3 linked regions of the Homo sapiens genome follow. The protein of the gene in region 2 purifies or fractionates together with the protein of the main gene of each other region. This does not show direct contact. Each region holds a gene or a part of one and is shown on either strand. Other genes may lie near its edges.

Region 1 (4,162 bases), on a different chromosome or scaffold from region 2:
AAACCACGGTAGACAGCACCCCCTTGAGTCCAATTCCTCCCCTTTCGGAGGAAGCCGGTTTCTCCTTTCTATGCTACTCCCGGGCCATTTCTGGACAACAGCTGCTATTTTCACTTGAGCCGAAGTTAATTTCTCGGGGAGTTCTCGGGCGCGCACAGGCAGCTCGGTTTGCCCTGCGATTGAGCTGCGGGTCGCGGCCGGCGCCGGCCTCTCCAATGGCAAATGTGTGTGGCTGGAGGCGAGCGCGAGGCTTTCGGCAAAGGCAGTCGAGTGTTTGCAGACCGGGGCGAGTCCTGTGAAAGCAGATAAAAGAAAACATTTATTAACGTGTCATTACGAGGGGAGCGCCCGGCCGGGGCTGTCGCACTCCCCGCGGAACATTTGGCTCCCTCCAGCTCCGAGAGAGGAGAAGAAGAAAGCGGAAAAGAGGCAGATTCACGTCGTTTCCAGCCAAGTGGACCTGATCGATGGCCCTCCTGAATTTATCACGATATTTGATTTATTAGCGATGCCCCCTGGTTTGTGTGTTACGCACACACACGTGCACACAAGGCTCTGGCTCGCTTCCCTCCCTCGTTTCCAGCTCCTGGGCGAATCCCACATCTGTTTCAACTCTCCGCCGAGGGCGAGCAGGAGCGAGAGTGTGTCGAGTGAGTGTGCGTCTGTGTGTCCCGGCGAGGGTGCGCGCTCGGCGCCGGGAGCGCGGCCAGCCGAGTCCGGAGGCATCGGGAGGTCGAGAGCCGCCGGGACCCCAGCTCTGCGTTCACTGCCCCGTCCGGAGCTGGACTTCGGGGCCGGGGCCGGGGCCGTGCGCCGGGGACAGGCAGGGCCGGGTCGCGGGCCGCGCGTCCCCCAGGCCGGAGGTAAAAGCGCTAGCGCGCGGAGGGCTCGAGGAGGGCACCGCGGCTGGGCCCCCCGCGCCCCGGGCCCCAGCCGTCCGCGGCTCCCGGCCCGACGCTCCCCGCCCCGGAGCGCGCCCGCCTCCCCTGCGTGGAGGCCGGCGGGCAGGCGAGCGGGGGGCGGTAGCGCCGTGCCAAGGGGCTGGCTGGGGCAGCGTGGCCGGCCGGGCTGGGGCGATTTAAGAGCGGTCCGGGCGGGGTGCGGAGCCGGACTTTGGCTGGGGCGGCGCGCGGGGAGGGGGCCGGGGGCGGTGGCGGCGGCGTTGGGGGGCGGGGAGGAGGCAGGAGGAGGAGCAGCAGCGCTCGCCGGGGGATGCAGCAGCGGCAGCGGCGGCGGCGGCGGCGGCAGCGGCAGCGGCGGCGCGGAGTCCCCTGCGCCCAGCGGCCCGGCCGGGCTGCGGCAGAGGCGGCGGCGGCGCCCCGCTCCGGGTGAGGTTGCCGGGGCCGTGCGCGCTGGTGAGTGGGGCGTGGGGGGCAGGTGGGTGGCTGGGGGACGCGGGGCTCGGGCGGGGGCTCGCGGCGGCCGGAGCCTTCCCCGGCGTGAGCCCGGCCGCGAGCGCCGCCCAGGTGAGCCGGGGCTGGTCCGGACCGCCCGGCTCCAGCCCCAGCGCTGCTTGCGGAGGTGGGTCCGGGCGGGCGGGAGGGAGGCTCCGGCGCCGGCCGTCCGCAGAGGGATGACCTGTTTGACCCCGCTGGCTGGCGGGCGGGCGAGGACTTCCCGCCGCGCCCCTGACCCGCGGACACGGCACACCGAGCACAGGCGGCCCCGGGTAGGGGAGCGCGCCTGGGCCGGCCATCCGCAGGGGCATGGCCTTGTTGACCCTTAGGGTTTAGACCCAAGGGACCGGTAGATGCCAGCCCACGTGGGGCTTGTCCGGGCAGGACTCGGGGAAGCAGTGGGCCGGATCTTCAGAGTGGTTGGAAACTCGCAGACACCGAAAGGACAAACAGGATCGAAAAGGCAGACTTCCTCCCAGGCCAGGGCAGAACGAGTTTCCATCGCCTGGCGGAGGGATGCTCCCCTCCCCGGCTCCTCGGGGTTTCAGAAGTCTAGCGGTGAATTCTAGGAGTGCACTTTTCCAAACATTCCTTATAGTAGTTCGTTCATTCGTTCTACAAGCATTTCTGGAGCACCCCCTCGTGCCGGGCACCGCGTTCTGTTCCAGGGAAACGCGGCTGAACAGGATCTGGCTCCTGCGCGCCAGAAGCTGCCGGTTCACTGGGAGGGCAGCAGGGTAGAGAGATGCCGTCTCGGGGTGGAAGATGGAAAGGGAAGCCTGCAATCCTAGTTTGCACACTGGCCTCGGTCCGCAACTCCCCCACCTGCACGCAGTAGGCCCAGCACACAGTAGGAAGAGCAAGCCAGACCTGCCTGTGACGACCCTCTCCTCCTCCTCCTCCCCCTTGAAAGCTTTGATTCATTCCCTGCCCCCCTTTCTGGAAAGTCTTCCTGCAGCTTGTTTTAATCACTTTTTGAGTTAAAAGTCAATATTTAATTAACCAAGTAATTACATTCAGCTTACGTTTCAATCTGGGTATTTGCTCATCTGTGCGTGTTGGGACACCCGCCCTCTCGCCCCTCCATCTGTCCCCTGCCTGTTTCCCACCGGGTCCACCCCCACTTTTGGGGCAGAGAAGGGGAGGCTGCGCTGGAGCAGGTTCTCAGGGGGAGACAGGGAGCAGGAGAGACGGGCTTTCTCTGGAGGACACCCCCGGATCTGCGCGCTCTCCAAATTTCAGCTTGTAGTGAATAGTGAAGGTGATTTCTTGACAGCCTCTGCCTCCCATTACAGAACCACCAGAGGGTTCTAATTAAATTAGAGCCAATCGTTAAGTATAGGAACGGGGTAGGGAGGACAGAACGAAGGGGGCCCCTTCCCTGTAAGAGATGTTCTCCCCAGCTTCGTCTCTCCCACATCATAGAGAAGAGAAAACTCATCCAGACAGCCTGTCGGATGTGTAATTTAGCGTTCTAATAAGCAGCTTGAAAGGCGAAGGTGGTGGGCTTGGCAGATGGCATGTTGGACCTTTGTACATGAAGGCCTCTTCCTTCCCCAGCTAAATTTATATACATAAAGGCCGTGATGTTGGCATCACTGCTGCAGCTGAGGGTCAATGTGGGTTTGGGGTTTGGGCTTTGTGTGTACTTCTTGGGTTTTTTATTTGAATTTATGGCTTTTTCTGAAACCCTAATAACATGTTAAATTTTCAAACTTGAGAGTAGAGTGATGAGTTGACTGTAAAAGTCTGGTCTTGGAGGAGGACAGCATAGCAGTGTGTGTGCATGCACGTGCATGTCCCCCAGTTCAGCTGCTGTCCAAAGAACCCAGTTGATATGCAGTTTCACACCTGATTTGGACCTGATTTGGGAGATAACATTTCCTTCTCACTTTTTCTGGCACTGGTTAGTTTATCTGCTTGGACCTGCCTCAAGAGGGCAGCTGGGTTAACCAGGCAGAATATCACCCAACTCTGTCAAGCTTTGGCCATTATCTGACCTTAGACTTTAGTCCTGCAGAAGGAGTCCAGAAGCCCTGTCCTACAGAAAAATATCAGCATTTCTGACCAGCTTGTAGTTAAAAGAAAAGGTTTAGTCCAGACTTAAGATAATTGGTAACACTTAAGTAGTTTTGTATGGGCCTGATCTGAGGCATTGATCTAAGCCCTTATACCTTACTCATTAAATCCACACAAATACCCTGTTAAGTAAGTACTGCCATTGTTGCCATATTAAAGATGAGGAAACAGGCACAGAGAGGATTGTGACTTGCCTACAGCTGGTCACAGGTAGAGCTGGGATTCAAGAGGCCCTCAAGCTCCGGGGTCCACTTGGAACCACTGGACTCTCCTCCATGACCTTGGCCTTTGTCCCAGATGTAGAAGAAACACATATGCAGGGGAAGAAAACACCTTCAGACAGTCAAACTTTGCAAAGTAAAAGGCCCTTAACTTTCCATAAACCCCCACTGTTCCGACAGAGAGTCCGGGTTTGTATTTGAGGTTTTTTGCCCCAAGGAAAACATGTGTCTGCCTGGTGCTTTTTCTTCTGCTTATGAGCAGACACACTGTCCCCTCCCCCAGTCAAAATGCAAAGGGAAACATCAAATGCAGCTGATGGAAAAGCCAGGTGAACCATGGTGAAGATTTCAGCCCACTCAGAGCACAGTGGCCAGAGAGCAAAAGCTCTCCTAGAGGTGAGACCTTCCTGTGGTTGGTGATGGAGTCTCGATGGCCTGGCCCTGGGGGTGGTGCCAGGGTGCTCT
Region 2 (3,646 bases):
CCATGGGAGAATAAACTCCTGCTATTTAAACCACTCAGTCTGTGGTAATTTCTTATGGCAGCCCCAGGAAACGAATTCACACTACTAAATGAAAATAGATCTCTGTCTATCAATATCAACACCAATATTTATATACAGGGATGATAATGACCTTAGTTTTCCAGTTCTTAATAGCATACTGAATAATTGTGCATGATTGTATTTCAGGTATGTAAAATAAAATTGTTTGTTCACTTATTTTCTTCCAATCACCATTTTCTCTTTCTCCTTTTTTTTTGGTTTTAGATCGTTATAAGTTTTACAATGGACTCTCTTGTTACAGCAAACACCAAATTTTGCTTTGATCTTTTTCAAGAGATAGGCAAAGATGATCGTCATAAAAACATATTTTTCTCTCCCCTGAGCCTCTCAGCTGCCCTTGGTATGGTACGCTTGGGTGCTAGAAGTGACAGTGCACATCAGATTGATGAGGTACGTGTCCACTAGGGTGCTACACAGGGTCCTAAACTCTGGGTCCACACTCAAAGTCAGACCCTAATCCCACTTAGGCAAGCCAAGGGGCTTATTGCACCCTGGGCTTGGTCAGAACCCATCCCTGTCTCTGAGTCTTTATTTGTATTTTCTCCATCTTACTTCCTCTTCGATCCTACCATTCTTAAAGTCTCACTTAAACTTGTACCTTCTTTAGGGTGCTCCTCAACTTCATGTCTGGCAGCTTTTCTCATTCATCTCTATCTTTATCTCTGTATGCATGTCTGTCACTCTTTTACTCTATGATTGCTAATACCAATATTGCTAGCGATTTTTAGTATGTGTATATGTCTTCTGTCTCACTCATTTCATTAAATAAATATTCATTAAGTACCATATATGGTTCCAGTGGCTAGAGAGCTTGGTGTCCTCCTGGACTCTTTCTCTCTCACTTTATACCACATTTGTTAGAAAATTCTGTTGGCTTTTCTTTTGAAAGATATCCATAATCCAGGCACTTCTCCCAGTCTCCTTGAGGTCTGAACCACAACCATCTTTTCTCACCTGGATACTGCAGCAACTTCCTGATGGGCTTTCCTGCTCTCACTGGCAATCTATCCTTTGCACAGCAGTCCAAGAGACCCTTTTAAAACCTGAGCCAGATTCTATTTCTCATCTGTTCAAAAACCTGGATTTCTTATTTCACTCATGATAGCAGTTCAAGTCCTTACAATGGCCCACAAGGATCTGGAGATCTGAATCCCAGATAAGCCCTGTGACTCCATCTCTCACTTTCATCCCTCCTCACTGTACCTGTCACATTGGCCTCCTGGCTTCCTTGGGTAAGTCATGCCCATCCTATCTTGGGGCCTTTGCTCTCGGTCCCTTTGCCTGATGGCTCTTTCCCCTGGTAACTGACCTCAGCTCACTTTCTTCTTCAAGACTTTGATCAGTGTTTATCTCCTATACGGGGCCTACTTTGACCTCCTAATCTAGTGCTGCATCCTGACCTCCAGACCATAAGGGATACTTTTGTAGGCACCTAATAAACATTTCTAGAATAAATAAATGAAGGTAATAAGAACAAATCCCCAAATAAACTACAAGTTCCCATGGTTGGCCTTATACTTCCTTGGATGTAGCACATAGTGCGGGGGTTATGCACAACTCAGGCTGTTTCCCCTGAATATGGAGCAGTAGAATTTATGGATTAAGACAGAATGTGTTTCTGGGGTCATTCTGCTTTATTCATCTACTAAGATTTGGTGTATTATTTTCTTATTCCATTAGCAAAACTTAGCTTTAGAGTGTGGTTTGCATCTTGCAGGGCAGAATTCAGATGTTCTTTCTTAGGCAGTTGAGGGCACCTGCTGACCAAATGGGTCTGAGTAGTGCAGGATATGACGCCTGTCTCCTACCTTTCTACCAGGCTCTGGATAACTTGTCTTTTGCTGTCCTCACTCCCTTGATTCATGTGAAACTCTAGATCAGCACTGTCTGACACAAACATAATGAGAACCACATAGTAATTTAAAATTTTTTAGTAACTGTATTGCAAAAGTAAAAAGAAACAGGTGGGACTAATTTTAATAATAATTTTTTAACCTAGTATATGCAAAATATCATATCCACATATCATCAATATAAGAATTTTAATGAGCTATTTTATTTATTTATTTTTTTATACTATATTCAAGATCTGGTGTGTATTTTGCACTTACAGTCAATTCAGATTGGGTATCTATGAAATGCTCCATAGTTACATTTAGCTTGTGGATACCTCTATGTTCTTTTAGTTTGGTTATATTTATTCATAAATGCTCTCCCAGGGTAGCGGTTGGTTCTTCTCCTCGATTCCACCTCCCAACCCAAGTACAGAAGCACCCACTTTCCTTTAAACTGTTGTTGATTGTTTTGTTTGACTATGTAATCATTGCCATTGTCTCATTATGAAATGTTTCTGAAGTTATTCAGGCTTCCCTCTGTTCATATTATCTGAAAGACCCCATCCCGTTATCATGCAGGTACTACACTTCAACGAATTTTCCCAGAATGAAAGCAAAGAACCTGACCCTTGTCTGAAAAGCAACAAACAAAAAGTGCTGGCTGACAGCTCTCTGGAGGGGCAGAAAAAAACGACAGAGCCTCTGGATCAGCAGGTGAACCGCCACCGTAGAAAACTCTTGCCTTTCTTTTTTACAAACTGCTTATTCTGGCTGTAGGATATTTGGTGATAGTTGCTTATCCCCAAATATTAGACTCTGGATACCATCAACAGCAATAACCTCATGTGATCTGTGATTCCTGAGTATGGATCTCAGATGTCCTTGGCTATCAGCTAGTTTCCTAAAGAGTAGGATCTGGTGTCTTCTGCTTATGATAAAGAAGCCTAGATCATCACTCTGTCCCTCATCTGCTTCTATAGGCCACAGGGCCCCAACACAGAGTATGGTCAAAGATAAAGGTGGTAAGGGGTAGGGTCAGCTGTGGAATTCTTACTGTCTCCCTCTATCTCTGCTTGTTCCATTTCGTGCTGAAATCTGCACTGACAGACAAAACTTTTATTGGTTGCCTCATGCCAGGAGGAGGAAAGATATTATCCAGGGTATGCATCCCCCTACTTTAGAAAGTTTAAGAGGAGGGTGGATAGATGATTGTCTTTCTTTCTTTCCTTCCTTCTTTCTTTCTTTCTTTCTTTCTTTCTTTCTTTCTTTCTTTCTTTCTTTCTTTCTCTCCTTCTTCTCTCCTTCTCTCCTTCTCTCTTTCTCTCTTTCTTTCTTTCTTTTTGTTTTTTCTGAGATGGAGTTTCGTTGTGTTGCCAGGCTGGAGTGCAGTGGCGCAATCTCAGCTCACTTCAACCTCCGCCTCCTGGGTTCAAGCAATTTTCCTGCCTCAGCCTCCAGAGTAGCTGGGATTACAGGCATGAGCCACCATGCCTGGCCTCTTTGAAATGTAAAGAAAATCAGAGTGTGTCAGTCTGAAATATAGTGAGCGTTGCTGAGTTCCCCAGATGTATTTTTCCTGGATGATCTTGATATAGATGTGGGAGCCATAATCTTCCACTGGGACCACTTCTCACCCTCCATTCCTCTGTTCTTCCCAGCTCACTTCCCCCAGCATGGTAACAGAGACAGCTGACATCTTACTAAGAAGCTCTATCTTGCTTCTGTACAAA
Region 3 (3,646 bases), on a different chromosome or scaffold from region 2:
GGGTATGGTAACACATGCCTGTAATCCCAGCTACTCAGGAGGCTGAGGCAGGGGAATCACTTGAACCCCGGGAGGCGGAGTTTGCAGTGAGCCAAGATCGCACCACTGCACTCCAGCCTGGGTGAGAGAGCGAGACTCCATCTCAAAAAAAAAAAAAAAAAAAAACAGGAGACCCCCCTAACTAAGACAGCCAGGAGCTAGGAGATGGGGCAGCCATGGGTGTGCACCGGGGTCTTCCTGGGACAGTAGTATCTCTTGCCTGCTGGTCCATTTCAGACAGGGCTGGGCATTTTAACTCCCAGGGCTATGAAGTCCCAAGGCATGTGATTTTGATATTGAAGATAGTCCTGGTTGGTGGGGAAATGAGAATAGCTTTCCTTAGGCCAACGTTCTGCAAAATGCTAAGCCATATTATTGGCCTTTTCCCTTGGGAACTATTTCCTGTTGGCATTTGGGGCTGTCTTTTGCCTAGAATGTACTTTCTGGGCCTGCACTCAACCGATCAAGCAGTTTGAGGGTCCAACAGGTTCCTCCTCATGAGTTTTCCCTGCGGTGCTGACTGAACGCAAAGCGCAAAGGCTCTTCCTCAAGAAACTCAGCGTGAAGGTGGGGGTTTCCACGGGGTCTCTGGGTGGGGCGTTAGTTCCCAGCACAGGCCAGACTCAGCAGCGAGCTGTGTGCAAGGAGACCTGTGGGGAGCGCTGCCTGGGGCCAGGATGGGCCTGGGGCAAGGTGAGTGAGAGAAGGGAAGTGGAGGGGGCCCCATGCCTGTAATCCCAGCACTTTGGGAGGCCGAGGCGGGAGGATCGCTTGAGCCCAAGGGTTCAAGACCAGCCTGGGCAGCACAGAGAGACACCTCTCTCTACAATCAATCAATCAATCAATCAATCAATCAATTGAAGTGGAGGGGAGGGATGGAGAAGCAGGACTGTCTGGAGGAAGTCAGAGCAAGCTCCTGAGCAGGGAAGGAATGAAGCAGAAGGCAACATGGCTCAGGGGTGCCCATGCCCAGCCCAGCACTGCCCACTCCCTGCTGTCCCTGCTGCTCATCCCCCTCCCCCTCATTCATACCCTGGCTTAATGGACTTAACCGCAGTCCCCCTATCTGCAAAGCCCAGATGGAGCACAGAAGCAGAGGGCTGTTTGCCATCCATCCCTTAGGCAGAGGCAGGTGACAGGACAGGGAGAGGGGCAGGGAGGCCAACTGGGGAGACGCAACAGGCCGTGGGCAGGCCTGTCTGAAAGAAGGTCAGAATGGAATCTACTCCAAGCGTGGCAAAGGCTTACTCATGACCCAGAGGAAACTGCACCTGGGGCTTGGTTTTTCCAAAGGAAGAACTTTTTGTCAAGTAAAAGGATTTTAAAGGAGACTAAGAGGGCCAGGCATGATGGCTCACGCCTGTAATCCCAGTGCTTTGGGAGGCTCAGGCAGGAGGATTACTTGAGACTAGGAGTTCAAGACCAGCCTAGGCAACAGCAAACTTCGTCTTTACAAAAAATAGAAAACCACTTTGCCTGGTATGGTGGTGCATCTGTAGTGCCAGCTACTCAGGAAGCTGATGCGGGAGGATCGCTTAGGAATGTGAGGCTGCAGTGAGCTATGACTGGCCACTGCACTCCAGCCTGGGGGACAGAGTGAGACCTTGTCTCAAAATAAAATAAAATAAAGTAAAATAAAATAAAATAAAAGGAGGACTAGGGGTGTTGGCCTGAGGCTCAGAGCGGGCCTGGCAGGGCCAGGGAGGGCAGTGACTATTCCTGGTCTCTGGCAGGTGGAGAAGGGCAGGGCTGCGTGGGTCCGTGTCCTGGGTCCCAGCCAGGCTGAGCCAATAGGAGCAGGCTTAAGGAAGGGACACTCAGAACACGGTCTCAGCATTTGGGGCAGGTTAATGGGGGCACTGACAGCGGGATTTGGGAAAAGCACTGCTCTGCCTCCAGCCGGTCCATCTGGGGGCTGGTGGGCAGCTGCTGCCTCCCTAGGAAGAAGCACTGGCAACCGCCCGTGACCACCAAGGCTGAGTGTCCTGGTGGGTGCCCACCCTGTTCATGCAAGAACCCGGAATGTGCCTGGGCCCAGACTTTGTCAGGGCTAAAGTAAACTGTTCTTGAAAACAACAATAACATCAACATTGCAGCAGCTGCTCCTTGGCCATTTCCATCCATGCCAACCTCAAGTGCCTCCGCCCTGCAGGTAACAGCATGACAGCTTCCCAAAGGCACGTCCAATCAGTGCAAAAATAAAGGGCCTCTCAGTGGTCATTTTGGTAAAGCAAGGATGTTACCGCTACGTTACCCTGAATGTACTGTGGAGCCTTTCAGGAAGTCCAGGCCTAAGAACTTGAAATGTTTTAACTCAATGGCATTCAGTCAAATTGGCAAAACTTTTCAGACGCCCCCTAAGACCTCCACCCTGGCAGCAGAAATCTCTGGATAAATTACTAAGCTGCTCACCTTTGGAGAGCATATTAATATTTACAGCTTTAGTAAAGCACATGTAAAATAACTGATGATCAACGCTGGCAAAACCTCTGAAACTGCTCATCACCAAGAGACCCAGGAGTTGCAAATAACCCAGCCAGTGCTGACTCGTCACTAGCTACCGCTCTGCACCTGGGCCTGGAAGCGTCTGAATCCAATTGTGAGCAGATGCAAGTTCTCAGATGTTTCTCAGACAGGAATCCAACCCGTTCCTCTGTTGTTTTTCCTACTCAAATGGAAATTAGAGTCTTATCTGAACTGCTCATAATCCTTTTAATTTCCTTTCAAAAATTAAAAAAAATACTTTGTACATTTCTGATTCAAAGTATATATATTTTTTCTGGCATCTAAAAAATACTTTTATCTCCCATCAGCCTCTGGTTAACTCAGCTGGAAGTTTCAAAGGCGTTTGGATCCCAGAGTTGTTTGTGCTCTTAGTTGCACATTTCTGCCTCCGTCCAGCCTTCCAGCAGGCGGCTGGCCTTCTCTGCACCAGAATCTGAGCTATCAGAATCAGGGTCACAGATCAACATCAGCCCGGCATTCCTCCTCCGAAATTTCACATTAAAGCCGGCTTTCACCAGTCAGAAATCTTGCCCCAGGAGCTCCCAGACGGGACAACAGGCAGTGCTCTGAGAAGGGGACGCAGAGGACCAGCCCAGCATGGGTCTGGCTGTGGGCTGGGAATCCCGTGAGCCTCTGTGACACGGGGCTGTTGCTGAGACCAGAGGGCTTCCCAGGAGCAGACGTGCGTCTGCCACTCCTGCTGCTGTTTTGCGTAGGTTCTAGACATCACAATCCCAGAACTGACCCAGTGTGCTGCCCACATTCTTACATGAAGAGGAGACGCAGGACTCCGGGGTGCTGGGCTTGCCCTCCCTGTAGACAGCCTCGTGAGCGGCTGGCAGGGCCTGCGGGTGGCCGTTTCTGGCGTGCTGGGCTGTCTGGGGAGGTGTGTGTTGGTCTTCCACCCTGGAGAAAAACATGAAAAACGGCAGTGAGTACAGCCAGCCAGGAGATTCGGACTGCCGACTGCCGACTGCAGCATCACAAATACAGGAGGGGGCGGTGCCTCAAAGTCTTGTTAAACCATCATTAGCATATCAGACCTTCTAAAGGGTCTTGGCAGGAGCCAGGAGGCTGACCCTGTGAGGCAGTAGCCTCCCCT

What was found.
Region 1: the proteins of SERPINB12 (region 2) and SULF2 purify together in Homo sapiens (co-immunoprecipitation; one large-scale study listed by IntAct). This does not show direct contact.
Region 3: the proteins of SERPINB12 (region 2) and ARMC9 purify together in Homo sapiens (co-immunoprecipitation; one large-scale study listed by IntAct). This does not show direct contact.

What each region holds. Positions count from the first base shown.
Region 1 is NC_000020.11:47,782,536-47,786,697, reverse strand, and holds the start of SULF2 (extracellular sulfatase Sulf-2 isoform a precursor), read left to right. Parts: upstream 1-1,216; 5' UTR 1,217-1,355; intron 1,356-4,162. UniProt on the Homo sapiens protein: Exhibits arylsulfatase activity and highly specific endoglucosamine-6-sulfatase activity. It can remove sulfate from the C-6 position of glucosamine within specific subregions of intact heparin.
Region 2 is NC_000018.10:63,555,857-63,559,502, forward strand, and holds part of SERPINB12 (serpin B12), read left to right. Parts: intron 1-285; coding exon of another isoform or gene 286-303; coding exon 304-471; intron 472-2,495; coding exon 2,496-2,630; intron 2,631-3,646. UniProt on the Homo sapiens protein: Inhibits trypsin and plasmin, but not thrombin, coagulation factor Xa, or urokinase-type plasminogen activator. May play a role in cell differentiation.
Region 3 is NC_000002.12:231,355,602-231,359,247, reverse strand, and holds part of ARMC9 (lisH domain-containing protein ARMC9), read right to left. Parts: intron 3,451-3,646; coding exon 3,314-3,450; intron 1-3,313. UniProt on the Homo sapiens protein: Involved in ciliogenesis. It is required for appropriate acetylation and polyglutamylation of ciliary microtubules, and regulation of cilium length. Acts as a positive regulator of hedgehog (Hh)signaling.